Homo sapiens: one gene and its partners. The protein of the gene in region 3 interacts with the protein of the main gene of each other region in a biochemical or structural test. Each region holds a gene or a part of one and is shown on either strand. Other genes may lie near its edges.

Region 1 (4,233 bases), on a different chromosome or scaffold from region 3:
CCCTAAATACAGTGGCTCGAATAAGACAGAAGTTTATTTCTCTCTCGTGTAATAGTTTAGACCTCAACAATGGCTCTGCTCTAAAATTCCAGAATTGGGATTTCTATCTTGTAGCTCTACCAGCCCCTAGGGCAGAGCTCAGAGTTCAAAATGCACATGAGTACCCTGGGTGGTTTCATTAAATTGCAGGTTCCAGGGCCAGGCACGGTGGCTCATGCCTGTAATCCCAACACTTTGGGAGGCAAAGGTAGGAGGATTGCTTGAGGCCAGGAATTTGAGACCAGCCTGGACAACATAGCAAGACCTGTCTCGACAACAATAACAACAACAGAAATTAGCCAGGTGTGGTGGTGCACGCCTGTGGTCCCAGCTACTGGGGAGGGGAGGCTCAGGTCGGAGGATCGCTTGAGCACAGGAGTTGGAGGTTACAGTGAGCTATGATTGCATCAGTGCACTCCAGCCTGGGTGACAGAGCAAGAACCCGTGTCTTAAAAGAAAAGAAAAACAGGAGGCTGGGTGCAGTGGCTCACATCTGTAGTTCCAGCACTTTGGGAGGTGCAGGCAGAGGCGGAAGCGGAAGGATCACTTGAGGCCAGGAGTTTGAGACCATCGTGGGTAACATAGTGAGACACCCATCTCTTACAAAAAATTTGGAAAAAAAAAAAAGCCCAAACAAATAAACAATCTAAAACACACACACACACACACACACACACACACTCTCTCTCTCTCTCTCTCTCTCTCTCTCTCTCTCTCTCTCTCTCTCTCTCTCTGTCTCTCTGCAGGCCTGCTGCAGAGGGCTTGCCATTCTGTATGTCTTTTTTTTGTTGTTTTGAGACAATGTCTATTGCCCAGGCTGGAGTGCAGTGGTACATTCTTGGCTCACTGCAACCTCTGCTTCCCGGGTTCAAGTGATTCTCCTGCCTTGGCCTCCTGAGTAGTTGGGATTACAGGTGCACGCCACCATGTCTGGATAATTTTTGTATTTTTAGTAGAGATGGGATTTTGCCATGTTGCTCAGACTGATCTTGAACTCCTGAACTCAAGTGATCCACCAGCCTCAGCCTCCCAAAGTACGGGGATTACAGGTGTGAGACACCAGGCCCGGACAATTCTGTATTTCTTCTTTTTTTTTTTTTTTTTGAGACGGAGTTTTGCTCTTATTGCCCAGGCTGGAGTGCAATGGTGCGATCTCGGCTTACTGCAACCTCCGCCTCCCGGGTTCAAGCGATTCTCCTGCATTTTTTAGTAGAGACGGGATTTCTCTATGTTGGTTAGGCTGGTCTTGAACTCCTGACTTCTGGTGATCCACCCACTTTGGCCTTCCAAAGTGCTAGGATTACAGGTGTGAGCCACTGCACCTGGCCCAATTCTGTATTTTTAACAAGCTCGCAGGTGCTGCTCCATGGAGCACATTTCTTATGCCACTGGGTGTAGACGAGAGGGTTGTCCTCACACGAATGAGTGGACTGTATCATCCCCACGGATGTGTTCTAGCCCTGAGAACTGGGGATGGCTAGCGGCCACCAGAAAGTGGCACACATCACTCCTGCTCACACCCCAGAACTTGGTCATTCAGCCACATCAAGGTGCAAGGAGGTTAGGAAGTGTGATCACCAGCCAGATGGCCGTGTGTCCTGCTGAAAATCAGGAGAGCCACTACAGAGACACAGGGCACAGAGGATTCTGGGGACGCTTAGCATCTCCCATAGGGAGTTGGGTGTGTGAAGGAGTGGGGTCTTCTTCTTGAGGCTACCTGGGTGGAAGAGAGCTAGCTGTGTGTCACTTCCCTGTCAGGTGGGGGAAGTGAGAGTGGGTCAGGGTGTGGGCAGACCCAAGGGACAGAGTTATGGGGGAAAGCGTTTGTGTGTGTGTATATCTATATGTAGAGACAAGGAAGGCAGCCAAAGGCAAGGTGGCATCTGGTGCCAGAGAGTGAGGAAGCTACCATCGATGAGGGTCTTGTCAACGGGCACAGGAGCCAGCTGGCAGGGGCATCCGCCAGCTACATTTAAGACAATTTAATAGTACAGACAGGCCAGGCGCAGTGGCTCACGCCTGTAATCCCAGCACTTTGGGAGGACGGGGCGGGAGGATTACCTGAAGTTAGGAGTTCGAGACCAGCCTGGCCAACATAGTAAGTCCCCGCCTCCACAAAAAATACAAAAATTAGCTGGCCATGGTGGCATGTGCCTGTAATCTCAGCTACTCGGAAGGCTGAGGCAGAAGAATTACTTGAACCCGGAAGGCAGAGGTTGCAGTGAGCTGAGATCGCTCATTGCACTCCAGCCTGGGTGACAGAGAGAGACTCCGTCTTGGAAAACAAAAACAAAAAACATGGCCAGGCGTGGTGGCTCACGCCTGTAATCCTAGCACTTTGGGAGGCCGAGGCGTGTGGATCACGAGGTCAGGAGATCGAGACCATCCTGGCTAACACGGTGAAACCCCATCTCTACTAAAAAAATACAAAGAAATTAGCCAGGCGTGGTGGCGGGCGCCTGTGGTCCCAGCTACTCAGGAGGCTGAGGCAGGAGAATGGTGTGAACCCGGGAGGCGGAGCTTGCAGTGAGCTGAGATCGCGCCACTGCACTCCAGCCTGGGCGACAGAGCGAGACTCCGTCTCAAAAAAAACAAACAAAAAAACAAACAAACAAAAAAAACCCAGTGCAGATAAGAATGACTCTAAGTGATTCTACACATTGAATTATTATTTTTTATTATTATTATTATTTTTGAGACAGATTCTTGCTCTGTTGCCCAGGCTGGAGTGCAGTGGCATGATCTCAGCTCACTGCAACCTCCGCCTCCCAGGTTCAAGCAATTCCCGGCTAATTTCTGTATTTTTAGTAGAGACGTGGTTTCACCATGTTGGCCAGGCTGGTCTCGAACTCCTGACCTAAAGTGATCTGCCTGCCTTGGCCTCCCAAAGTGCTAGGATTACAGGCGTGAGCCACTGCGCCCGGCCTATACATTGAATTAAAAAAAGAAAATTCATGTTTAGAAAAAAAAATGTCATTGTGACCCCTCCTTGATGCTTGGTCCCTGCTGCAAACCTGAGGTGGGACTTTGCATCCTAACCCAGCAGCTAAGTGGCAAGTGACTTTGGCAAGTCATTTGCCCTGTGCTCACGTCCCCATCTCACATGATTTTCATCCCTGTCCTCCTGGCGTCTTGTTTTGAGGATGAAATAGATGACACCTTGAGAGGCTCTGGGAGGCCAGAGTGGCTCCTCTGAGTCAAAGACCCTGGGGAGGAGATCTCAGGACACCTCTTTCCAGAGCTGCCCTGCTGGGGATTAATGACAATGTGAGCACCACCCAAGCAGGAGGCTTCGGGGGCACCTAGAGCACAGAATTCCTGAGAATCAGGCTTGGAGGACTATCAGAAAAGCAAGCAAGGTCATGGTGTCTGTGGGGGGTGGTTAAGAAAGAGGGGACAGGGTGAGGGGCCAGGCATGGGGCTGGCAGGATGTTCTGGAATGGGGTGTCATTTTAGCAAGGGCTATTAGAATTAGCCATGAGCAGCCGGACGTGGTAGCCCACACCTGTAATCCCAGCACTTTAGAAGGCAGAAGCAGGCGGATCACCTGAGGTCAGGGGTTCGAGGCCAGCCTGCCCAACATGGCGAAACCCCGTCTCTACTAAAAATACAAAAAATTAGCTGGGCATGGTGGCAGGCACCTGTAATCGCAGCTACTCAGGAGGCTGAGGCAGGAGAATCGCTTGAACCCAGGAGGTGGAGGTTGCAGTGAGGTGAGATTGCACCACTGCACTCCAGCCTGGGTGACAAGAGCGAAACTCTGTCTCAAAAAAAAAAAAAAAAAAGAATTAGCCATGAGCACTCCCAGATCCTGTGGATTAAGTGACATGGCTGGGATGGTCTCCTTCTCTGGATATTTTCCAGTATGTCTGTGTCTGGCCTCGGGGACAGAAGAGGTGAAGGAGGGAAGGGATACTTGAAGCTGGGAAGCTGGGATCCTTCAGATGTCCAAGAAGTGCCCCTGATCACTGCCCCTTTTTTTGCCAGGCAACCATCGGCTTGATCAGGAATCTGGCCCTGTGCCCAGCCAACCATGCCCCGCTGCAGGAGGCAGCGGTCATCCCCCGCCTCGTCCAACTGCTGGTGAAGGCCCACCAGGATGCCCAGCGCCACGTAGCTGCAGGCACACAGCAGCCCTACACGGTATGTGAGCTGGTGGTGCCTCTGACAGCCTTCCTGGGGGGTCAGGGTGTC
Region 2 (3,740 bases), on a different chromosome or scaffold from region 3:
GGCCAGGCCACGAGGGCCAGGGCTTCTGCCTGAAGATGGAGCTGCAGCCTGCGGGGAAGCAGCTCAGCTCGATGGTGGGCCCAGCCTCTGCTGTCCAAGGCTGGCTAGCTGCGGTGCTCCTTGCTGGTTTTTAACTTGGGGAGAAACACCGGGTTTCAGCTTTCTTGACCTTAGCTTGGGTGAGACTGTTTACAAAAAAAAAAAATTACCATGCAATTGAAAAAATTTTTTTTTAATTCACAGGGGGCAAAAAGAACAATTAGAATTCCATGGGTCTGCCAGGATGCAGCAGCTGGCTGAAGGCTCCAGAGGGTTCCCCGAGGTGGGACTGGCCTCTCCCCGTGTGTGTGGGCACCACAGTCCCTGGGCAAGCAGGGTGCTCTGGGACCGCACTTCATCGAGCTCACGAGCCAGCTAGGCTCTGTTTGTGATAGAAAAATCAAGACCATGTTAATGATCGTAATAAAAGCTTTCTACTGTCGTTGGGGTGGTGGGTGGGGCTGGGAAGAAACTGGTTTGAGCTTTTAGAGTTTGCCTTTGTACCTTAGAGATGTGTCTCAGGGCCAGGCATGGGACCTGCCATCGAGGGTTCCTCCCCGCACCCTCGATTTTCCTGTTTTGCTTCTCTCTCCATTTCTGTCCAGGCCTCCGCCCAATTCCACAGTGAGGGGTGGTTAGGAGCTATAGGCCGGGATGGCTCCTTGGGAAGGGAAGTCGGGATCCCAGGCTAGGAGGAAGCTGGCAGCCCCGTCCCCACTGGGCCCACAGTGTGAGTCGTGCCTTAGAGACTCCGGGTTGTCCTGTTCTTTCTGGGCTTGCTCATCTCCCCCCAACCCTGTCCCACCCCACCCCTCCCATACCTCCACTGCTGAAGTTCCTCCAGCCCCTCTGTCTGCCTTGTGAAGGTGGCAGGGGCCAGGTCTGCCTGACATAGGACCACATCCTGTCCCTCCCTCACCTGGAGCAGCACAGCAGAGTTCAGGCAGGGCACAGCCAGGCCCTGGTCAGCGCTGAATGGCAGAGGAAAGATCTTAGGAAAGGAGAGGAATCGCCACCCCCTCCTGCCAACTGGGATGACTGGGGAGGGCCACGCTCATTCAAAGCTGAATCAGAAACCAGCCGTGGAACAGAATTCCTGCCGAGTCTTCCAGGGCCGCTCCTCCACCACCCTCCCCCAGGTTGAGGCACTATGGCACCCTCATCAGGAAGAGGTTTGGGGTCCCCTTGTTGTCACTGCTGGCTCTGCCACCCCATCTTGTTCATGGCAGCTGGTTGGGTCAGGTCCATGGTAGAGCCAGGCCCTTCCCAGGGCTGCGGAGAAAACCTGCTCTCTTCTAGTCGGGCTTCTCCAGAAGCCAGTAATCAGAAAGGATGTGTCTCCTGCTCCAACTCTGCCCCCGAGACAGCTCAGAGCCAGAAGGCACCCCGAGACAGCTCAGAGCCAGAAGGCACCCCGAGACAGCTCAGAGCCAGAAGGCACCGAGGACTCTGGCCCAAGTGGGGAAGCTGAGGCAGAGAGCAGAGGGGGTCATGCAGTGAGTGGGTGGGGTGCAGGAGACAGAGAGGGGCTGGGGGCGTGGGGTGGGGGTGTCTGCCTCTTCCCTCCACCTCCTCCCCTCCTTAGCAGCTGAAGACTCAGCCCTGAGGTCTGGGGCAATGGAAGTCAAGACACCCGACCCCTACATCCTGGGGTAGGCCCGACTCAGCATCCTGTCCCAGCTTCAGCCCCACACTCATTTCTGGCATAGAAGATTCCGCCGAGGCAGCTCTTTCCTCTCGGGGTCTGCCAGGGGTGCCTCAGCTGGTTCCTGCTCCCAGGCCTAGCCCCGAAGCCTTAGGGGCCTTCTCAGCCTTAGCCCTGGGTACTGGGGTGAAGTTGGCAGGGGAGAGCTTGACACTTCGCCTCCCTGATGGCCATGCTGAGGGACAGTGGTGACCCTGGTCACTTGGTGCTGGTGTAGGGGCCTGTGCCCTTCCAGGGCCAGTGAGACAGCCTTCTACTCCCCCGACCCAGAGCTGAGTCCGAGGACCCCAGGCCCACCTCCTGGCCCTCTTGGAGGTCTGTGCTCTTACCTCCCAGCCCCCACCCTGCGGGAGAGCAGCCCCAGCGCCTCATCTCCCCAAAGGCGGCAGATGCTTGATTCTCCTGCCCTCTTTCTTCCTTCCCTCGTATTTATTTATTTATTTATTGCTTGTGCTAAAGACCAAAATAGTCTCCCTCTTTAGTGCACTTGAAGCGGGAGGGCGGATGGGATGAGCCAGGAGCGAGGAAGACTTGGCCCCTGGGGAGTGTGTGTGTGGAGGCGTGTGCCTGTGTGAGCCTGCATGCATACATGTGTGGTGCACACATGCACACTCGGCTCTTCATGTGTATGACTGGGTTAGTAATACAGATACGTGATCTATACGTGTGTGTGTGTGTGTGTGTGTGTGTGTGTGTGTATGCAGGCGGTTATGTGTCTGTCTACCCCCAGGTGTTTCCGTGTACAAGTTTCCTGTGAGGGAGGGCACCCACCCATCAGGTTGGGCACTGGCACAGGTGAACCCCACAGTCCCCGACCCTCTGCCCTGATTATGCACGTCTGCTCCTGAGTGGAGCTTGTGTTCCAGGATGAGACATCTGGAGGTGAGCGTGTGCGTCCGGCTCGTGTGTAGGAGGCTGTGTGTGTGCCCATGTGAAACCGTGTACTTGAGTGTGTGTCTGTGTGCAGCCTATGCCTGCTGCTCAGAGCACGGTGGCCACCCCCTGAGCCTCTGCTGGTGCTGTGCTGCGTGGTCCCCACCCAGAGGGTCCTGGGGGGCGGGGAGGAGCCACCGTTGGGAGGCCCCTGTACGGGGTGTCTGCCCTGCGTGAGGGCATAGAATGTCAAATTATTTTAAATGGTGAAACTGGAGAGTTTTCATGTTATTTTCAATACATAGCAGTATCTAAAGACGTAGGCGATGAGACTAGACCACATTAAATGCATTTTGATCTCTTTGAGGTCCCCTGTGTTGAGATGTGTTTTCTGAAGTTCCCCTGCATGGCTCCACAGCGTGCTGGGCGTCCGCCCGGCTTCCTCAGCCTCCGCCTTGGGTGGGGGTTTCCTGGGGCTTCCTCATGGGTGAGGGTGGGGCATGGTGGCAGCTGTTGGGAGATGGAACAGAACTCAGCCTCCTTGCAGCTCCCAGTGGTCTCCAGCAAGCACACAGGGCTTGTCCCATGATGTCACCCATCCCAGGCGGCAGGGCCGAGCCTCCTGCCTTCCCTTCCTTCTGCAAGGATGTGCTGGGTGCCTGCTGTTGCAGCAGCGCCCTCCCCAGCTGGGGGAGGCTGACCTGAGACAGGCAACTCCTTTCCCAGGAGGGGAAGCCCTGCTCCAGCTTGTAGCAGGCAGGGGCTGAGGAGGAGTTTCAGAGCGTGCCAATGTCTCCACTGAGGTGACGAGACAAGCCTGGAGTGGGGTGAGGGAACACACACGGCCCAGTTTTGGGAAACTAGACTTTCATCTGTACCTTGAGGCTCAGCCCCAGATCTCCAAGGTCTTCAGCAGGGACTTGTGGGGAGAGAATTCCTTCCCTTCCCAAACTATGTGAGTGGAGAGTTCTCCACTCCTCTGCATCAGCAAAGGACTCAGGGCACCCTCTTTCTGCAGGATTTCGATGATGATTCCAGACAACCCCGGATAAGAATCCCCTGCCTGAGTCATTCCTGGGTGATGGTGCCGTGCATGGCAGAATGTGGAGCAGGGGCTTGGGTG
Region 3 (4,233 bases):
AAGAAGTTTCAAAACTTAACAGCAGAAAGCAAACAATCCAATTAGAAAAATGAGCAAATGGCATGGAAAGACATTTCACTGAAGATACACACATCGCAGATAAGCACATGACAAGATGTTCAACATCACTGGCCATAAGGGGAAGGCAAATGAAGTCTATAATGAGATATCCCTCCCCACCTATATGACAGGAAAAAAAAATAAAGTGACAATACCAAATGCTTATGAGGATACAGAGAAACTGGATCTCTTCTAAGTTGATGGTGGGAATGTAAGTGGTACAGCCACTTCAGAAAAGAGTTTGTCAGTTTCTTTTTAAAAAAGAGAAAAACTAAACATACTCTTACTATACAACTGAGCAATTGTGCTTCTGTGCACTTATCCCAGAGGAAAAAAAATGAATATCCACACACAAAGCTGCATGTGAACGTGTGTGTTTTATTTGTAATAGCAGCTTTATTTGTGATAGCCAAAAACTGTTAAGTCAAAATGTCTTTCATTTGGTGAATGGTTAAACAAATTGTGGTATATTCATACCATGGAATACTACTCAGCAATAAAGAGCAAACTATTGATACGTGCAACAGCTTGATTAGATCTCAAGGGCATTAGGCTGAATGAGAAAAACCAGTCTCAAAAGGTCACAGCTTGTGAGACTGATCTCAGAGATAGTAGAAGCAGGGTGGTAGGGAGTAGAATGGGAGCTGGGGGAGATCTTTGTGGCGATAGAATAGTTTTGTATCTTGATTGTGGTAGTGGTTACATAAATCTACACAAGTATTACAATGGCATAGTACTTTACACACATATTGTACCAATGTCAAATGTCTGGGTTTGCCATTGTGCTGTAGTTAGGTAAGATATAATCACTGGGGGACACTGGAGGAAGAGTATAGGGACTTCTCTGTGCTCTTTGCAACTTCTTTGCAACTTTTTATCTGACCATATATGAAAATTAAATGTAAACAAAAATATGCAACAGATTAGGAGAAAATATATATAATGGCAAAAGGGTTACTATTTACTCATCAATTAGAAAAAAACAACTCTTTAATTTAAAAGTTAAGAAATAAACAGGTGAAAAAATACAACTACTCAATAAATATTTGAAAAGATTTGCTGTGTTTCTAGTAAATCAGGGAAAACAAAACAGCAATGAGAATTTATCAAGAGGGTCAAAAATTTAAATATTTGATGTTAGCAAGGTGGGGGCTGCAGACCAGGCCCTCTCATAACACCCATTAACATGGGAATTAAATTGGTATAGATTTTTCAGAGCCATCTATCAAAATTGAGAACATGTATTTGCCAAGTCCCAGCAATGCCAATTCTCTGCCTCCTAGGGAACATTTCTAAGCATATAGGAAATAGGATGCACAGAGGCGTGTTGCATGTGGATGTTGCTGGTGGGGCAGGTGGTACCTAGTACAAGGGTGGCCAGCGTCACTGAAATGCAGCCTTCAGAGGGATGCAGAAGCTGAACAGGCCTGAGAGTTCCCCCTTCACGGAGAGCATAGCCTTCTCTCCTCCTGCAGTGATGATTGAGGGATAAACCTCTGGCTGATGGGACTCAGGCAGGGCCAGGCCGTCCGTGGGTTCCCAGCCTAATGCAGGTTGAGAAGTGGCTTGCCCTGTCACAAACCCCACTGGGTGAATGCTTTGTTTAAAAATTTTCCTCTAGAAGTGAAGCAGCTTCATTCAGTCAAATTAATCCATCCAGAGCAGACCATTAAAAATACTGGTTAGTGAAGAGGGGGTCCTTAACTCACACTTGACAGACCCAGGAGACCTGCTGTAGCACAGATGGGAAATGGGAGACAGCCAAGGTGTGAGGGTGAAGGCTTGTCCAGAATCCCACTCCGAGTGGTTTCAGGGAGAGGACTCTGGTCTCAAGCTCTTCTCCTGGGCTTTATTTACCACATACCCCTCCTCAGGCCCTGAGTCAGGAAGTTGCTTCCCACAGTGATATCTACAAAGAGCTATACAGCCAGCTGGGATAAGGGATGAAGGTCAAACCGAAAGTGACTATTTCTGTGCAAAGAATCAGAGAGAAAAATCTTATGGGCCCAACAGCAGTAGGTAATTGAGAAAGTGAGACTAAGAAAAGTCATAAAAGAAACGGTGATTCCTTATTAAACAATATGGAAAAACTGTCCACTCCTGCCTATAATCCAAGGAGCTGCTAGTGGACGTGGTCTCGAGGCCCATTTTCATCCCTCAAGTGGGCTTCGATGATGAGCGCTCAGTGCCCATGAGGTGGCAATGACACTGTTCCTCTCAGAGACCTTACTTATGTGTGGCCAATTTGCGACAGCTGATTTGTAAAGCAGTTTGGCAATCTGTATCAAAAGCCAAGGGATGTCCATTCCTGCCATCAGGGTCTTCCTCTTCTGGGAATTGATGCCAAGAACATAATTGACAAAGATGTATATTCAAAGATATTTGCCATGGTATTATTTGTAACAATGAATAAAGGCAATGCCAAATGTCAGTGGTCTTTGGGTTTCTCTCTGCCCTGGCTCCCTCTTCAAATCACTCTACATGCTCCAAAGTTACCAACCATCAGTCCATCCCCTCCACAGCCATGTCTTAAGCTCAGACCCGTTTCTTGAGCTCCTGCTTGGTGATCCCAGGATGTCCTTTAGACAACCCCCTTAGATGTAGAGAGCTGAATTCACCTTCCCCCCACCTCCTCCTCTTTCAACCTCTCTTATTTGAATACAGCAAATGGCATTCCCACCACCTAACCCCTCAAGCCAAACATTCAGACGACATTTTTGTCTCCTTCCCATCCCTCAACTTCCCAGCCCGTTAATCACCATCTCCAAAATCTCTCTAAAATCCGCCTGTTTCTCTCCAACCCCACCACCACTGACCTGGTCTAAGCCACCAGCACCCTCCCCTGAATGACCACTGAAATGTAAATTCTACAAAATGGTTTCCTACAACCATACCTTGCCCCTGCCCTGATCCATTCTCTGTCTTGCAGAGTCCTCTTCCTAAAACACAAATCTGACCATGTCACACCTCGTGAAAACTTTCAGCCACTTTCTATTCTCCAAAGGATCAGCTCAGATCCTGAGCAAGATTTGCAGGACCTCAGGCCCACCGCTTTGGACTGATCTCTAGCAGCTTCCTCTTTCCCCCATGGCCTTTTTCCAGCCTTAGACGCACCACAACCCCCTTGCCTCCTGTCCTTCTGCAGGCTCTGTGGGGACACTCGCATCTGGAGCTCCTTCTTCCCCCACTGGCTGAATGACTCAGTAAATTAACAAGTGAATACTTCAGATGCTGCCTGCACTCTGGACTGGCATCATACAAAAATGATACTGATAGAAGAAACAAAAGAAATTCCTAGATGGCACTTTTTTAAAATGTCTAATACATTTACTCTCCAGCCAGACACTGTTTAACCCATCTTGAATCTATTGAAGAGTGAGTTCTGACAGCTCAGCCTTGATCTGCCTCCTGCCTGGCACCAGCCCTCCTGGAACTGGTTCCTGTGCACCATCCTACACATCTCCTTCCTGCCTCCCTTCACTACCTACTCTATTTCCAACAATGTTGGGCTATGATAGCTCAAGCAAATACAGGAATAAGGAGGCTTACAGCCAAGGCAAGAAAAAAAAAGGGAGGGCAGTTAACAGTAGAGCTGCCAGCGACCAGTAAAAGGAAGCCTGAGGAATAGGAATCAGCCTCGAAAGCAGACTTCTGCCAGGAAAGCAGCTAAAAACACTGATATCTCAGGGTGAATACAATTCAGGAGGGGAATGAGAATAGAAAAGCATAGTGGCTGGAAGAGCAGGCTCCGAGGTCAGAGCTGGATTGATCCCACCTCACCGTGGGCAAGTTACTTCCTCTCTTTACTCGTTTATACCATGAGTTATTGTGTCTGGCATATGGCAGTTTTTCAATAAATCCTAGCTATTCATATTATGAATCCTGAGTATATGGAGAGGGCAGGGAATAGGCTAGAGACAAGCCAGCAAAACTGGGGTTTCAGACCAGAAATGACTTCACTAATGGAGCTGCAGGTAGCATTGTCCTGGGCTGCACACCGCAGCCCTTGCTATTCCTGAGCAGTTGAATTCATAGTCATCTATTCATGGTGTTCTTTTTAATAAGTCCAACATTTTGGTGAGTGACAGCTTCATCCCCAGAGAGAAGGAAGTATTCTTCCTAATTCTTCCTTCGTGCCCCCTTCATTTGCACCCATGAGTCATTTTCTCACCA
Region 4 (4,233 bases), on a different chromosome or scaffold from region 3:
GAGAGAGAGAGAGAGAGAGAGAGAGAGAGAGAGTGGGTAGGCAGAGACAGAAAGAGAAATTCCAAGAAGCTAATGAGAATGGAATAGCCAATGTAGCACCAAGAGGTTGAAAAAGAGGAAAGCCTCTCATAGCACCTAATTACTGAACTGAGTTTAATCAAAATCTGAAAAGAGAATAAGAAATTCCAATGGCACTACACTGAATTAGGTGACTGAGCTATAGTAAGGACAGAAAACAGTCACGCAAAGATAGGTTTAAGTTATTGTTTGTACACAAATTAGCCTTGACCATTTGAGGAAAGAGTCCAATGATTTTTAAGATATAGACAAAGATATCCTTAATAATTGTCAGGAAAATAAAACCAGTAATATAGAAAAGATAATGCGGAAGAGTGAGAAATGTGTTTAATAAAATAAACCATGAGAAGTACAGGTTTGCTGCATATTTATGATATCAAACCCTAAAATAAAAATGTATCATTTAAATACAATATTTCTTTTAAATATCATTAAAATATTTCTAAGCTTCAGAAATACAGCCTTGGTTTTTATTTCAATGTTTCCTGCCATGTACATCTGTGCAAATCTCATTTGAAAGATAAGTAGGAGAAAATTAATAAATTAGGACATGTTTTTGTATTATAGGCAGGGGATAAAAAAGTTATATTGAGGTCTAAAACCCATTTAATAAAATTTGTTTTTCTTTCCCATTTAATAACATTTCTGAATAAAAACTATTTTTAAATGTATAGAAAAGGCTGGGCATGGTGGCTTATGCCTGTAATCCCAGTGCTTTGGGAGGCTGAGGGAGGAGGATCATTGAAGATCAGGAGCTGGAGACAACTCTGGGCAACATAGCAAGACCTGTCTCCGTTAAAAAATGTAAAAATTATCCGGGGCCGGGCGCAGTGGCTCACACCTGTAATCCCAGCACTTCGGGAGGCTGAGGCGGGTGGATCACCTGAGGTCAGGAGTTCGAGACCAGCCTGGCCAAAATGGTGAAGCCCTGTCCCTACTAAAAATACAAAAAAATTAGCTGGGCATGGTGGTGCGTGCCTGTAATCCCAGCTACTAAGGAGGCTGAGGCAAGAGAATCACTTGACCCTGGGAGATGGAGGTTGCAGTGAGTCGAGATCGCACCACTGCACTCCAGCTTGGGCAACAAGAGCGAAAACTCCATCTCAAAAAAAAAAAAAAAATTATCTGGTTGTGGTGGCACATATATGTCCCAGCTACTCGGGGGGCTGAGGTGGGAGGATCACTTGAGTGCAGAAGCGCAAGGCTGCAGTCAACTAAGATCACACCACCACACTCCAGCCTGAGTGACAGAAAGAGGCCCTAACTCTTAAAAAAAAAAAAAAAAAGGACGAAAGAAACCTCTTGATGAACAGTACATGTAGCATATTGTCACAAAAATTACAAAATAGTGGAATATTAGAAATCATGCTTTTTAAGAGCCAGTGTTCTGAAGTTCAACTGCCTGGTTTGAATCCCAGTTCAATCAGCCTACTAGTTTGGTCCAAGTTCCCTTGAACACATCACTTGGCCTCTTTCCTCAATTTAAAAAAAGAGTACCAAGAGGACCTACTTTATAAGGTTGTTTGTAAGAATAAAATAAAATAACACAATAAAATAATATTTGCAGTGCTCTGCTTGGCTCCTGGTGGGGACTCAACATGCGCTAGCTATTATTTTCATTTTATTTCATGATATAAGCATTTACTGTTTATGCGTAAGGTACACTTAAGCCAGAACTAGAAAATCAATTTCCTGAAGATTCCTAAAACCACCAGAAAAAAAGTAAAGCCCAGCTGACCAGCTATTTCAGTAATATACTTCTTAAAAATTCTATAAAATTTGACCTGAAGTCTAAAATAAAATTACCAGCCTCATTGATAGCAATACACACACACGTACGTGAGGCTTCCTAAAGAGGGATGTAGATACATTCTTAGGTAAGACAAAATATTTAATATATTAATTCTGATTTGGTATCCCTGGGGTTTTCCCAATCCAAAGAAATAAGCCTAGGGAAACTATAAAAAGCAACAGCCCATAGTTTAAAAACAACACCAACAAGCAAACTGATCTGTTAATTCCAAAGCATTCATCTGCAAGACTGACCAGCCACATTTGGGTAAAGGTGCCGTGCTCCTACAGCATTTTTCAAAAACCTTGCATCGTATACAGTTTCTTTATAAAGGTTTATTAGGAGGAGCTTGTTAAGACAGTAGTTAATACAGCAAATTTAAAAGACCCAGAAACTAGCATCTGGCAAATATCATTTTGAGTGGGCAACAATCAAGGCAAGGTTTTAATTTTCTATTCGCACACCGCATCATTCTTTCCTCTCCGTCTGACACCTTTCACGTTTCCTCTACTTGACCTCAGTTTCATGATGTACAGCAAACGATGAAGTTTATAGTTCTAAATTTGATGCCTTGAACTGTTTCGAGACAAGACACTGCAACACTAGCAAACTAATTAAATGCATATTTTGCGTATGTGGCATATGACACATTTAATCTTGAATGATGTCATCAGTTACCATTTATCAGTATGTCTTACTTTCAAAAGTCATATAGGAAATTCATGTCTCTTGGTTGAGAATATTAATTTATATACACTTCCTGTGAGCTGGAAACAGACTGAGAAGAGTACTTACTTTTGCTCAACAAAGAGAGGATCAAAGAATTCCGTTGTGATTTTGTTTGCATATAGGGAACATCCAGTCATTGAGCACAGCCCTAACAAATATTAGAGGGAAAGCACTATGGTTAGTGTGATTTCATTAACATCATCAAGTACCTTGTTTGGAAGAAAGTTACTATTTACCTGACAGTATGAATACAATCCCAGCCAAACAAGCAATTTTAGCTTTGGCTTTATCGGAGCCTCCGACTTTGGTACACTTCATTCCAAAGAGCGCAAATATGGAACCAAAGAAGCCCAGGCTGACAGCAGCGATCATAAGTCCTCTACATGCCTGTATATAACCTGCAATTAGAGTAGGTCATTTACGTTACATAAAGCATGTGGCTGTCCAGGGAGAAATCCTCATTTTACGTTGTCATTCTGGATGTTTGTTTTCCAAAAAGATAACTGTGATGGTGAAAACATGTGGCAAGACAAGCAAGAAAGGAAAGCAAGTTAATCTACAGGGAGTGCCTATTCTAGGTCACACACTGTGAAGTGCGGTTTATGGGGAATCCTCAGGATAGATCTGAGTGTTATTTCCATATTCACCAGTGAGGAAACTGAGGCACACAAAGGTTATGTGACTTACCAGAGGTGAGTTAGAAAGTGGCAGACATGGATTCCATCCCAAATCAGACTACGAATTCCATATAGTGAAATTCCACAGTGAAAGGTGCCTTTCACTGTGAAAAAACATCATCTGCCACCATCACAACTCTGTAGCTCCTCCGCTCATTGGACTTTAAAAGGGTGTTTTAATGGTTTTGACATTATCAAATGATAAGATTTATAACTGGGTGGCAGAAAGAGATCCAAAGGGTCAAACCTTCCAATATTAGTGGACGCTTATTAATAGCAGACTAACTGGAATATCATCATGAACCATGGGGGGTCTAAGGGAATACTTTAGTGAAGTACTATTGTTTTCAGGGTGTATATAATAAAACTGGGTTTTAAAAAGCACTATTTTGTAGAAGAGTAATTTATAGTGATTAAGTCAACTGTTCTTTTATAAATGAATGCCTTTAAAGTACCCTAACGAGTATGTTCTGTCAGTTCGTTTGTTCATCCTTCCTGTGCTATTCATGTTCTTAGTCATGTATTTTTATTTGCACAGCCAGGGTACACGGTAAACTTCAGTGTGGCTTTTGTCCAGGTTTTTACATTAACAGGGTTTAAACTAATAAGCTTTTACCACATAAGCCATTTTCATTTCAGCCTGAAACAATGCCATATTTCGATCTAAAATAGTGATAGTAGCACATACCGGGTGTAAGTAAGTATCTGCTAAGCAAATAAACATATATACCTACATCAGGTTTACGTTTGGAATTAAACTTTTTAACTGGAAAAAACCTCTTATGTGTCAATATATGATAAGTCATTTATTATTGGTGTTCAAGCAGAGCCATGATAAATAATAATTCCGAGACCATGATAATCATGAATTTAGGGAGTACATACTAGTGGCCTCCAGTTCAGTTTCTTTTTTTCTTTTCTTTTTTTAACACAGGATCTCACTTTTGCCACCCAGGC
Region 5 (4,233 bases), on a different chromosome or scaffold from region 3:
AAGATTGAAAACAAATGAACTCTTAGAGAAGTTTTTTGCATAGTGTAGGTTTATGAAGTTACATAATTATTTCTACAGCAGAGAACAATGCATACGAAAAGTTGAGCTGCTAGAGATAAAAGTAGGGTGTGGAGTTATTACTCCCTTGCTACTGTGTTTTCTTGCTGCTGCAAGTGATAATAGACCTAGTATAATGATTAAGGCAGGGAATCCTTCTGGTAATTGTTAATAAGACTACTTTGACAAATCTAAGACAGCTTTTATTTAGTTATTGTCATCTTTTAAGTCTTAGTCATAAATGTGTTATCAGGGCTCTTAATTTCATTTTTGCAGAAAAAAAAAATCTCTTTGCTTTCTTATAGAGTGACTCAGTAAAATATCAACATCCAAACATGGCAGGATTGGTGACACACAGAAATGCTGTGTAATAGATTAATTCCTCCCTCCCACATTTATAGCTGACCTAAATTGTCTTCTACCTCTTAGGTGTTCCTCCTAACCTGGTTGTCATTACCAAGCCCTTCTGCATACATCATTAACAATAAATCCACAGATAGTTTTATTTAATAATGCTTATATATATATATATATATGTATACATATACATATATATGTATATACATATACAATACATATATATACAATACATATATTGTATATATGTATACATATATACATGTGTATACTCATATATATACATATATATGTATACACACACACACACACATATTCATAGCTGGACTGTGTCAACTCGGCAGATCAAGGTGAGGATGTTGTTTGCTTCCCCTTCTTGGGGTCTGTGCAGTCTTAATTCCAGATGCTACGTGTCACAGCACTTCTCCTGCTGGGCACTGCTCATTGAGGTATGGTGTTATGTGACTGCCACTCGAACCATTGTTCTTCCAGTTACGTGAGGAATTTGACCGTGGGATTGATGTCTCTCTGGAGGAGGAGCACAGTGTTCATGATGTGGCAGCCTTGCTGAAAGAGTTCCTGAGGGACATGCCAGACCCCCTTCTCACCAGGGAGCTGTACACAGCTTTCATCAACACTCTCTGTGCGTAATACAGCCATATGTGGGAAAGTGGCCCTGGAATACTAAGATGTCCAACTCATTCATCATAACTTTATGCATATGTTTCCTGATAACTTTTTGTCCTTATTTATCAATCTCTAAAGAGTGAGCTATTTGAGGGAATTTCTCAGATTTACCCTGGGAATAATTAGCAAGAAGAAAGTTACAATAAAACAAATGGAAATAGCCAAGAAGAATTTGAGATGCTTTCAAATAACCCAAGAACAGTAAAAAGTACTATGAGTTAGTGCTTAGAGTACCAACAAGAGTTCACATTGAGTCTGTGCCTAAAAATGAGTTTGTGTTTCTGGTACGAAGAAGGAGGGAACCACGAGAACCCAGAGTGAGAAAGGAGGGCAGCAACATTCCAGGAGAAGCAAGATGCCATAGCCCAGTGCCAGGGCTTTCAACATAGCTGCTTCTGGGCTGTAGCTACAGATCCCATGAAGAAGAAAAAAAGGAGGAGGTAGAGGAGAGATAGGCCAAACCTGGGTCAACCTCCATACATTTCTTCCTCCAATGCTGCCATTCAAATAGGATCACAACGGAGAGAGAAGACATTGGCTTTGCTGTATCTTGGTTATTGCCAACAAAATATCTGTCCCTTGTGAATTGCTCAACAGAAAAGAGCCTTAAATCCATTATAAACTCAAATTTCAGAATGTTCACCAATTTTCAGCCATTGTTAATAAATATTTACCAAAAATGGAAGACTGAAATCCTTAAACTAGGTGATGAGTAATGCCAGGGAAGGGGGGAGAAGAAAGTAAGGGAAATTGAGTTACCTTTTTTTTTTTTTTACCTGGATTACAGTTATTTTTCTAGGTATTACACTTCTCGAGGTCTAATTTGGCTTTATATCTTTCATAGAATCTTGCTGGTAAATTGCTAAAGCAATGGGCAAATGAGTGAAGGCATGAAATGGGAATTGCCTTGATAATCCCTTTCTTAAGACAATTGAGAGGAGGCCTTTCCTCTGTGCCTGAATAGTATGGGCTCCCCTTTTATTTGAGTACCTCTTTTTGCCTTGCTTAGTGTTGGAGCCGGAGGAACAGCTGGGCACCTTGCAGCTCCTCATATACCTTCTACCTCCCTGCAACTGCGACACCCTCCACCGCCTGCTACAGTTCCTCTCCATCGTGGCCAGGCATGCCGATGACAACATCAGCAAAGATGGGCAAGAGGTAAGATGCCTTTGCTGCCATAGATGCCGTGACTCTTCCTCTCCCCTATTTTAAAAGGGCATACCACCAAAATGGCCATTTTGCCTGGAGGTAATGATGTCTCCCCTTCTCCAACCTAGCTGTCTCTGTAGGAAGAGACTAATGCAGGGCCTTCTCTGGAGGCACAGTTCCTAAAAGTGCATGGGCCATGAGCCTCCTTATATGTTTCAAGTATGCTTCCAAATGAGGCTGTCATTTTCCATGGTGAGGCTTTACTCAAGACTCTGAACTTCCGTTTGTAAAGAAGAAAAACAGTGAACTACAGAAGTGCTTGCAACCATGTAAAAGTGGAATGATGGGGGTGGGAGGAGATTGTTATCCTTATAATTGATTTTACCTGCTTCTATAACTTGGAGCCCAAATATGATGTCACCTCTTTATTCTTCCAGTTTATCCCTGGAGCTCCCATCTGCACTATGAGCAAGAAGTCTAGTGTCTCCCTTTCAAGGGATCCTTTCCTTTCTTAAACTCTCCCCCCAAAACAGGGACTTGCTCGATGCAAGGGAGGGTCAGTCCTGCTTCCAAACCAGGTGTGGAGGAAACTGGGTCTGATCTGCTGACCATTGCCATTGTGTCTTGATGTCACATGGTATCAACTGCTCAAAGCAGGTTGTACATAGTCCCACAGACTCTTTAGAAATGTTCTTGTTGGATCTGATCCCCACTCAGGCCCCAGTGTGCCCCCCCCCCGCCCACCAAATCTAAGATCTTGGGTTCTGGTTCTCTTTGGTTACACTCATATATTTCAAGATTTTTTTTTTTGTTTCACCCTTGGACAAATGAGATGCTGGCTTGAATTTTAAGTTGCTTACTTATGGGCAACGTATTTAATCTTCACCTTAACAAGAGACACCCCCTTCCCTCTTTGATACCATGCAGTTATACCTCTCCCTGACCTCGGATTCCTCAGGAGGTTTTAGACTCCTTAATAAGCTAACATGCACTGTAAATCAATAAGAAGGGGCCAGAGGCATTCCAAACTTACTTAACCACAGAAACTTTTTTGTAAATTCTTGTTAAACAAAGCTCAGCTGCACTGCAGCTTCAGTTCTGTGTTTGTCAAATTTCTTTCCCAAAGAACGTGGTTATGTATAATTTTTTTCACTCTAATCCAGAAAGGCAATTCTGCATTTCTTCTCGTCCTCCTCCTTACGGGTGTGAGAATGGAACTCTCCTGACTTAGCCATTTATCTCTATAGCAGTTATAATTAGTGAAGCCCCAGATGGCTTCAGGTTTCATAATGTGGCACTGACACCTTATTTCAGCATACACAGCTCTTTGATGGGCATACTATAATTCTCATAATTGTTAAGTAGTTTTATTACTCATTTGGATGCCAACCTCTATCAACTACAGTTATAACAGAAGCTGTAGCATGATCTGCCTAATTGCTGGGGGAAAGCAGAGCTCTGTGTTTAAAGGTACTCCAGTTACTTCTCTGACATTTCTTAAGTACTGTGTGAGAAGGAGAAAATTGGGTCTCAGGTAATTAGGAAGGCATTGAGGAAAGCAAAAGTTCCAATCGAACTCATTGTTGCCCTTTTAGAATCATTTTCAGACATTCTTTCCATTCAATTGCTGAACAAGTCTCCATTGCCTATGCCAAAAAGAAGAAAATATTCTTGGACAGGTGTAAATGAAACAGCATGCTGGAATATTAGCTACCATTTATGTCTCTCCTTCCATGAGCTGGCTTTGTGCTAGGGGAGATATATATATATATATATATATATATATATATATATATATATATATATATGCATGCAAATACATATAAATATATAAATATATGCAAATATATATATATATATATATATATATATATATGCAAATCCTCTTAACAGGCAAAAGAGATATCACTGTCTCCATGTTTCAGAAGTGAAAACTTAGGGCCAGGGGAGCTAAGTAACTTACCTAGCAACCCACAGAGAGCT
Region 6 (4,866 bases), on a different chromosome or scaffold from region 3:
CCGCTGGTCCACACTTCCTCCAATATGCCTAATAGCCTTCCAACACAAAAAACTGGACACTTTACCATAATCTTGTATGTCCCCTGCCCTAGTGCCTAGAATCAGCCATTTCTCCAAGGAGCCCTGGTTCCTTTCAGTAAATAATTATATTTAGAAGCCAAGATCTGGGTGTAAAATGTGCTCATTGCATGGAGGCTGTCGCTGCTCCCAGCCCCTCTCAGTGGCAGGGCTAAGGAATATATGTACATAGATAACATTTATGTATAGTCATACATACACACACCTATGGCTGTATTTCTATGTCTTTTTATATCTTTATAAAATATATACATATAATCATAAATTGACACCAATATCTCCAGTTTTGACCCACCACCAGTGAATTCATTTGAGTTTTCTCCCTCTCCATATTTGTAACTCCCTTCTCTGAGAAACCTGGCTCCCTTGGCCCTCTATGCATTTACTCATTTGATCAACCCACCTATGAATGGTTGCCTATGTCTGCCACTGCTCTTCCCCTGCCCCTGCACAGATGCCCTCCTCACTTTGTTGGGCCCTTTTACTTCCTGTTGGACCAGTGCTCCCCCTGCCCCCTACCCTGAGACACAGACCTCACACTGCAGGAGCTCCAACACCCAGCACCAGTTCCCTGTACCCCCCATGCAGATATCCTGCCCTGCCCAGCACTGACATCCCCTGCCATGTCACCACTGCCACTGCCCTCACCCCGGCGTGGCTGCCCCCATGGGGATGATCCTTGCCTATTCAGGCTCCAGCACCTCACACAAGACACCATAAGCCAGGGTGACCATGGTGGAAAGTAGGACTTAACACCCACCACCTTCCTGCAAAACTCAAAGAATTGTGGGCAGTATCGCATCTGAATGCAGAAGAGACTTTTGAGAAGAGGGGTTTTGACATTGATCAAAGTACAGTGCAGAGGCCACAGCCTATTCTGCTTGTGCCTACGGCTGCTTGGCCTGGGAGCTGCACTTTCAGTCAAACTGACCATGAGAGGCAAGTCCTCCATCAAGCAGATTAACCCCACTGGGTCTCAACTGCTTCACATGCTGGCATTTTAATGTAGTTTGAAAGGCTGGGGTATAAGAAATGCTAGAGATTGAACAGCACTTTGCCAATATGAGTCTCATGGAAATGCCAAACTGAGATAATGAATCAACAAGCAGGGAAAACAAGCATGGTGGTTTCCATTGATGTGTAAGGATGTGGGCTTTGCAGAGCCTGTGTCCTGCCAGGTCCACCTGAGATTGCTGGCTGCAATTACCTCTCAATGAAAGTGAGAGGAACAGATGGGTGGTGGAGCTGATAGAAAAAACAAGGAGACTCAGAGTCAGCAGAGAGTTCTAAATGCCATACATTTATGCTGCTCAAGTGTTCTCTAGAGACCTCAGAAGCAAACAACCCCTTCCACATTCCCATTCAGTTGAGCACAGTCCTTCCATGGCCCCAGATACCCAGCCTAGGACATCACTCTTAGAAGAAAGAAAGAGGGGGCTGGGGAGAAAGGCAGGGAGAAAAAAGGAAAGAGAGAAAAGCCAATAAAACTCAGGCTGGGGGAGTGGGCCATCTGAAAGCGCCTGTTGTTCCCAGGCAACTTAAAAGACAGCCTGACCCTAGGCTGGATTTCTAGGTGTGCAGATCCAGAGAAAAGGGCAAATTCTTCCCTGTGTGTGTGTGCAGTCACCTGGACAAACAGAAACCCATTTGTGAGATGGAATTTCCATGGCAGGCAAGGGCTCCGATGGGAATGTACAGGGCAGGACCATCTGTCCTGGTATTAAATGCATCATTCCCGTCTTCCCCACACTAGGGCCATCTGTACGCAGAAGCAGAGACTTCTTGCTCCCTTTCCAAACATACCACAGGATCAATTTAGAGCCCTGGTCTAAAAGGGGGGAAGGTGATTTTGTCCCCTAAGGGATGTTTGGCATGCCTGAAGATATTTTTGGTTGTCACAATGGAGAGGAGTGTGCTACTGGTATCTAGTTGGTAGAGGCCAGAGATGCTGCTAAACATCCTATAATATACAAGACAGCCCACACGGCAAAGAATTACCCAGCCCAAAATGCCAGTAGTGCCGAGGCCGTGGCACTCTGCTAGAGGCCAGCTTCTTACCACCTTTTTACTGCTGCACCCATAGCAATCTAACAACACACTATACATTCTCTCACCAAATTACTCCTAAGTATCCTGGCTGGGAAGTGTTGCTAAGACGCTCATACCAAAGATCAAGACTGGGCAGGAGATTCCTTTTAACAGACATCTTGTCACCAAAGGAATGCATACGGCTTCATAAGCAACAGAAGCTAATACTGATGCCAGTGCCCACTAAGGAAAAATGAAGAAAAATCAATACAGCTTGCCCCTGTGATGCCAAAGAGCTGATAGCCAAGTGATTTCTCCAGAGGAATCAAATTCAGTAACAACTCTTTCAAACCTCAACTTCTTTATCATTCATAAGCTTTCATTAAGCAGCCTTGAAAACCTCCAAGTCCACCATTCAAACTGTGAATTGATCCTAAGATTCTTTCCCCTGCAACGAGTTAAAAAAGAAAACGCTACTGCGAAGTTTCAACCCTGAAGTTGAAAAACAATGTCTGGGAACAGTTAACTCAGCAAAGAAGTAAATTTTCCAAAACAAAGGCAGGAGGAAAGAGAAGTTTTTGCCAACACACACCAACGGCAAACATCTAACACACCGAAAAAAATAAAAGAAAGAAAAACCAGCACAGAAAAGAGTTATCCAAGAAATAGCTTTTTAAAGAGAGAAAATCTTACTCTGGTTGTCAAGGACAGCTAAGCAATGAAAAACTGGGACGCAGACTCACTGGTGTCATTTGCTCAGGAAGGGTCAGACGTGGCCAACAGGTTGGCTGCCCCTTCACATCTGGGGCATCAATGCCCAGCCAGCCTGCAGGGTCTCCGGTCCCAACATCTCGAAGGATGGCTGCAGCCTCTCATCTCTGAAGGAATCAGAGCTGCTCTCCCACTGCTGAAAATATTTGAGATGTGCCAAGCAGATGGTCCCACGCTTATCAGCAGAAGCTTCCAATGGCATCATTCAGTGACACACTCAAGTGAAAATCTTCACGCCAATCCAGAGCGGGGTGTGAGCTGGTGATAATGCAAGGCAGTGGATCACCTTGAACCACTAAGGCCAGCCAGGGCTAAAGAGAAAGATGACGTGGAGAAATGCCACATGGAAGGGCAAAACCGCATGTGTAGTAGAAAGACAGAACCATCTCAAATTCCCAGCTCAGTTTCTAATAAGTTATGTGACCTCTGCCAAGCTCTCTAAGACTTGGTTTTCTCATCTGTAAAATGGAGCTAATAATATTAACTCAAAACCTAGTAATGATGAGATGAGTCTATGTATAGACCCAGAGAGACATACGGGAGACACATGGCTAGATAGTTAAGGATTTGTTCCCTTCTCCAACCCAGTTTCGGAGAGTATCATGCTCAGTGTAGTATATAAGACCCGTAGGATGCTATGAAAAGCAAGCAAGCCAAGGAGTGTGTTCAGGGGTGAAGGCAGGGGTCTGCACCATTGGCCATGCCCAGACTGCGTCCCAGCCTGGTCCGGGGGCTCCTCCTGGGAGTAGCTGTTTCTGTTAGATGCCAACTCTCACCCGTGCAGTCAGGAACATGAGAGCAAATTCCTTTTCCCCGATCCCTGTTCTGCATTTTTTGTGTTTTTGTTGTTGTTGTTGTTTGGTTAGGTTTTTTGTTTTTCTACCTTTTAAAAACCAAAAATGGCCAATATGTTACCCATTTTTCAAATAACTCAATGTGAAGCCCCAAAGGCTGAGAATTCTGGATCTCTTGGATCTCAGGTAGCCAAGTCTGAGATCCCAAGCCTGAAGACCCACCCCTCACTCAGGGTAGCATTTTCTCTTGTTTAAAGGGATTCCTTCATAGATATTGTGCCAAAGTATTAAGAACCTCGGGGACCAACTATATCAAAAGGGGTAAGAAGGCAGTTTCAGACTCTGTGGGAAAGCAGACATAGGAACCCACAGATGAAGTTCCCCTCCGACTGTTTTCGTAAGCAGGAAGACCATAGTCCCAGGGCAGAGCCAAACTACTCTTGTGGGAAGCCTGACCAGCAGCTCGGCCCTCCCAGTGGGAAGAAGAAAGGGGAGAGAAGAGAGCTTCCCCTGAAGCCAGCAGGCATCTACTGGGTAGGCAGTGCTGAGCAGCAAATCAACAGACCAGGTGAACTCGGTCTTGAAGTTGGAAAGGTGTTCTCATTACCTGGTTCTGATGCTCCAAGGAAGGAGAAGTTCAGCCTCCTGAAGAACTTTAGTTTCCCAGAGGATGGTCAGAAACTAAAAAGGAAACAGGCACCATCTAAAGCAGACTGCAAGGCAGAAAAGAAGGAGCACGGGTGGGAAAGGATCAGACCCACGGAAGAAAACATGATTAGGGAAAAATAAGAGGCTGCCCAGGAAGCTTCCAATCCCAGCAGGGGAGGAATTGATCCCGAAGGAAATGAGGGATGAAGGAGATGGGATACGACAGAGGGATCCTCTCTGCTCCACATTCGCTGCTTCTCAGATCAGGGGCTGCCCAGATGTTATGAACATTTCACCCTGTCCCCATGGGTGCTGTGAAACCCTGCGCAGAGTGACCAACTAGAAGGAGGACTCCAACGTCATTATGTAAGTCAACAGAACAGAGGTCCTCACCAATTTGCTTTTTCCAGTGCCTAACAGAAGTCTGTCCACACGGGCAGAGGACAACAAGCTGCCCAATTTGGAAATTGATAATGGTCCCAAGGTGAATGAAGAGCAAGCCGCCAGGAAGCCAGGGTGGCCCGATGGCTTCTAGGTAGGGAGAGAG
Region 7 (4,233 bases), on a different chromosome or scaffold from region 3:
CAGAACAAACTTTCTGAGAGAAACAGTGGGGAAAACAGTGGGAGTTTAGGGAAGATGGGCCATATTGTCATTGGAATATCCAATTGTCTGCTATCTGCCAAAAAACAAACAAACAAACAAAAACCCAAAACTAGAAGAGTATAAAATCCAGTAGAGGAATCATGATTTAAAACTAGGGCTCTGGTTTAAAGCCATAAAACCTCAGTTCACACTAGCTTAATGAAAAGGGTAAGTCAAGGGGGTTCATTAGCTCATGCATTTATTAGCTCATACCCATGGGATCTCCCAGGCATGACTGATCCAGGCCTGGGACCAGGTACCATCACCAGATCTCCACTTCTGCCTCTTGGCTCTGCCATGTTAGCTTGATTCTCCAATGGAGTGGCAAGAAGAGCCACCAATACCTTCACACTTACATTCTAGCATGTAGCAAAGCCAGCAGAATCTCCCGATGGTTCCAGCTCTCAAGTACCCAGCATGGGGTGCTATGTGCATTCCTAACCCTGCCATGGTAGCCAAAAGACCAGAACGTATTCGTTGGCCAGGCCTCATTCACCCACCCAGCCTCGGAGTAGAGTCAGTTCTGCACAAATCACACGCCCGAACACAAGCAAAAAACTTAGGAAGAAAGAAAATCAGTACATGGAAGAGATCTCTGCACTCCCATGATTATTACAGCACTGTTCACAATAAACAAGATTTGGAAGCAACCTAAGTGTCCATCAACAGACGAACTGATAAAGAAAATGTGGTATATATACACAATGAAGTACTATGCAGCCATAAAAAAGAATGAGGTACTGTCATTTTCAACAACATGGATGTTAAGTGAAATAAGCCAGGCACAGAAAGACAAACTTTACATATTCTCACTTATTTGTGAAAGCTAAAAATTAAAACAATGTAACTCATGAACATATAGAGTAGATGGAAGGTTACTAGAGGCTAGGAAGGACAGTGGGTGGGGGAAATGGGGATGGTTAATGGGTACAAAAAAACAGAAAGAATAATATCTATTTGATAGCACAACAGGGTGACTATAGTCAATAATAATTTAATTGTACATTTTAAAATAACTAAAAGAGGCTGGACACAGTGGCTCACACCTGTAATTCCAGCACTTTGGGAGGCCAAGGCAGGAGGATCATCTGAGGTCAGGAGTTCAAGACCAGCATGGGCAACATGGTGAAACCCTGTCTCTACTAAAAATACAAAAAAAGTAGCCAGGCGTGCTGGCACACATCTGTAATCTCAGATACTCAGGAGGCTAAGGCAGGAGAATCACTTGAATCCAGGAGACGGAGGTTGCAGTGAGCCAAAATCAAGCCACTGCACTCCAGCCTGGGCAACAGAGTGAGACTCCAACTCAATAATAAACTAAAAAATAAAATAACTACAAGAGTAGAATGGATCATTTGTAACAGAAAGGATAAATGATTGCGGGGATGGAGACCTCATTTACCTTGATGTGATTATTATGCATTGCATGCCTGTATCAAAATATCTCACGTCATCCAGAAATATATATATCAGGCCGGGCGCGGTGGCTCATGCCTGTAATCCCAGCACTTTGGGAGGCCAAGGCAGGCGGATCACCTGAGGTCAGGAGTTCAAGACCAGCCTGGCCTACATGGTAAAACTCCATCTCTACTAAAAATACAAAAATTAGCCAGGGGTCGTGGCACATGCCTGTAATCCCAGCTACTCAGGAGGCTAAGGCAGGAGAATCGCTTGAACCCAGGAGGCGGAGGGTGCAGTGAGCCAAGATCATGCCACTGCACATCAGCCTGGGTGACAAAGCAAGACTCCGTCTCAAAAAAAAAAAAAGTATACACACACACACACACACACACACACACACACACACCTAAAATTAAAAAATAAAAAATGCTTTAAATTAAAAAAAGAAAGAAAATTAGGGTGTTTCTGACCAGATGACAGGGCAGCAGATGCAAAAATCATTGTGGTGTGGCAGCAGGAGCATCACAATTTGGACCAGATCATCTGCGTGTCCTTGAACAAGGTGCTGTCACTTCTCTGAGCCTTGGTTTCCCCCTGAGTCAAAGGAAGCAAGTAAACTCCAGCTGATGAGACTGTGTATGGCAAGAATGCCGCATGTGCTCAGGGCAGGGTCAGTGCTCAATAAAACCAGCTCTCATCTCTGCAAAACAGAGAACCCTGGCCAAGGGGGAGCAGGGTTGAAGATTGGGGTAGAGGGTGGAACGGAGAAAGGATTTCTTTTGTGGCACAAAGAAGAAGGTAAATTGTTTCTTCATCTCATTGTCCCAGCAGCTGTGGCCAATCATCATGTGGCTAAGGACAAAACCCAGACGCAGCCCTGGCCCACCATTTGTATAGACAGAATATTATAAATTGGGTATTTGAAAATTAGGACCTGCTGGGCATGGTGGCTCATGCCTGTAATCCCAACACTTTGGGAGGCCAAGGCAGGCAGATCACTTTAGGTCAGCAGTTTGAGGTCAGCCTGGCCAACATGGCAAAACCCCATCTCTACTAAAAATATTTTAAAAAAGTTAGCCAGGCATGGTGGTGGGCACCTGTAATCCCAACTACTAAGGAGGCAGAAGCAGGAGAATCACTTGAACCCAGGAGGCAGAGGTTGCAGGGAGCCGAGATCATGCCACTGCACTTCAGCCTGGGCGACCAAGTGAGACTTTGTCTTAAAAAAAAAAGAAAGAAAGAAAATTAGAACCACTAGGAAAGCCAGGGCTCTGGCTTTCAAATACTCTTGCCCTGGTCCCCAGAGTGGGCACTGACCCAAGATCAGAAACCTTTTCTCTCCTCTGAGCACCCTCCTCTGTCTCCATTCCTTATCTTCTGCTTTCCCTCCCACAGGGCTTCCAGAGCGACCCTGTCCGCCACCTGTCCACCTACCTATGCCTGTCTCTGGTGGTGGCACAGTTTGTGCTGTCCTGCCTGGCGGATCAACCCCCCTTCTTCCCTGAAGACCCCCAGCAGTCTGTAAGTCACCAAGTTCCAACCTCATTCCTGTTCCACTTTGAGGTCTCAGTCTCCCCCAGGTGACCAAAAGTCTTTAATTTTTTTATTCATTTAGCCATTCAGCAAAAAGTGTACCACATTTCTACTCGATGCCACAGTTGGCAGACTTTTTCTATATGGGCCAAGAGAAAATATTTTGGACTCTGTGAGCCATACAGTGATCTCAGTGGCAATTACTCAACTCTGCCATTGAACGCAAAAGCAGAATATGTCAACAAATTGCATGGCTGTGTTGCAATAACACTATTTGCAGAAACAGGCAGTGGGCCAGATTTGGTCATAGTTTGCCAAACCCCGCTATGCCCTAGCAAGGGCATAAGGATCTATGGTGAACAAGCAGATAGAGTTTCTGTTCTCACGTAGCTACTGGTCAAGCAGGGGAACCAGACACTGGTCACAAAATTAAACAAATATGTTGAAAATTGGATGGTCACAGTGGCTCATGCCTGTAATCCCAACACTTTGGGAGGCCAAGGCAGGTGGATCACTTGAGGTCGAGAGTTCAAAGCCAGCCTGGCCAACATGGTAAAGCCTCATCTCTTCTAAAATTACAAAAATTAGCCAGGCATGGTGGTGCACGCCTGTAATCCCAGCTACTCGGGAGGCTGAGGCAGGAGAATTGCTTGAATCCGGGATGTGGAGGTTGCAGGGAGCCAAGACTGTGCATTTGCACTCCAGCCTGGGCAACAAGAGCGGAACTCCACCAAAAAAAAAAAAAAAAAAAAAGAAGGAAAAAGAAAATTACCCTTGGGGTAAGTGCTCCATAGAAGAAGCTCATGAGAGATTGAGAGATTTACAATAGGTAACAGTGAAGCAGTCTGTGAAATCAAGAAACAATTCTTTTGTGGAAGAGACTGATCTGACATCATATAAACAGATGTTCAAATGGGGCCAGATGCAGTGGATCATGCCTGTAATCTCAACACTTTGGGAGACCGAGGAAGGAGGATTGTTTGTGCCCAGGTGTTCTAGATCAGACTAGGCAATGTAGTGAGACCCCATCTCTACAAAAAGGTTTTTAAAAATAGCCTAGTGTGGTGGTGCATGCCTGTAGTCCCACTACAGAGTAGCTCTGTGGAGACTAAAGCAGGAGGATTGCTTGAATCCAAGAGATAAAGGCTGCAGTGAGCTATGATTGCACCATTGCACTCCAGCCTGGGTGACAGAGCGAGACCCTGTATTCAAAAAAAAAAAAAAAAAAATTGCTCGAAG

Evidence for each region.
Region 1: the proteins of FRMPD2 (region 3) and JUP interact in a test that uses a peptide from one of them, tested with the Homo sapiens proteins (one large-scale study listed by IntAct).
Region 2: the proteins of FRMPD2 (region 3) and KCNJ12 interact in a test that uses a peptide from one of them, tested with the Homo sapiens proteins (one large-scale study listed by IntAct).
Region 4: the proteins of FRMPD2 (region 3) and CLDN10 interact in a test that uses a peptide from one of them, tested with the Homo sapiens proteins (one large-scale study listed by IntAct).
Region 5: the proteins of FRMPD2 (region 3) and ARHGAP6 interact in a test that uses a peptide from one of them, tested with the Homo sapiens proteins (one large-scale study listed by IntAct).
Region 6: the proteins of FRMPD2 (region 3) and MAS1 interact in a test that uses a peptide from one of them, tested with the Homo sapiens proteins (one large-scale study listed by IntAct).
Region 7: the proteins of FRMPD2 (region 3) and ABCC6 interact in a test that uses a peptide from one of them, tested with the Homo sapiens proteins (one large-scale study listed by IntAct).

The regions. Positions count from the first base shown.
Region 1 is NC_000017.11:41,758,664-41,762,896, reverse strand, and holds part of JUP (junction plakoglobin), read left to right. Parts: intron 1-4,026; coding exon 4,027-4,182; intron 4,183-4,233. UniProt on the Homo sapiens protein: Common junctional plaque protein. The membrane-associated plaques are architectural elements in an important strategic position to influence the arrangement and function of both the cytoskeleton and the cells within the tissue.
Region 2 is NC_000017.11:21,416,888-21,420,627, forward strand, and holds the end of KCNJ12 (ATP-sensitive inward rectifier potassium channel 12), read left to right. Parts: 3' UTR 1-2,983; downstream 2,984-3,740. UniProt on the Homo sapiens protein: Inward rectifying potassium channel that probably participates in controlling the resting membrane potential in electrically excitable cells. Probably participates in establishing action potential waveform and excitability of neuronal and muscle tissues.
Region 3 is NC_000010.11:48,268,016-48,272,248, forward strand, and holds part of FRMPD2 (FERM and PDZ domain-containing protein 2), read right to left. Parts: intron 1-4,233.
Region 4 is NC_000013.11:95,558,896-95,563,128, reverse strand, and holds part of CLDN10 (claudin-10), read right to left. Parts: intron 2,998-4,233; coding exon 2,836-2,997; intron 2,748-2,835; coding exon 2,666-2,747; intron 1-2,665. UniProt on the Homo sapiens protein: Forms paracellular channels: polymerizes in tight junction strands with cation- and anion-selective channels through the strands, conveying epithelial permeability in a process known as paracellular tight junction permeability.
Region 5 is NC_000023.11:11,176,126-11,180,358, reverse strand, and holds part of ARHGAP6 (rho GTPase-activating protein 6), read left to right. Parts: intron 1-906; coding exon 907-1,057; intron 1,058-2,110; coding exon 2,111-2,259; intron 2,260-4,233.
Region 6 is NC_000006.12:159,889,117-159,893,982, reverse strand, and holds the start of MAS1 (proto-oncogene Mas), read right to left. Parts: upstream 2,996-4,866; 5' UTR 2,850-2,995; exon of another isoform or gene 2,800-2,849; intron 1-2,799. UniProt on the Homo sapiens protein: Receptor for angiotensin 1-7. Acts specifically as a functional antagonist of AGTR1 (angiotensin-2 type 1 receptor), although it up-regulates AGTR1 receptor levels.
Region 7 is NC_000016.10:16,213,073-16,217,305, reverse strand, and holds part of ABCC6 (ATP-binding cassette sub-family C member 6), read left to right. Parts: intron 1-2,856; coding exon 2,857-2,982; intron 2,983-4,170; exon of another isoform or gene 4,171-4,233.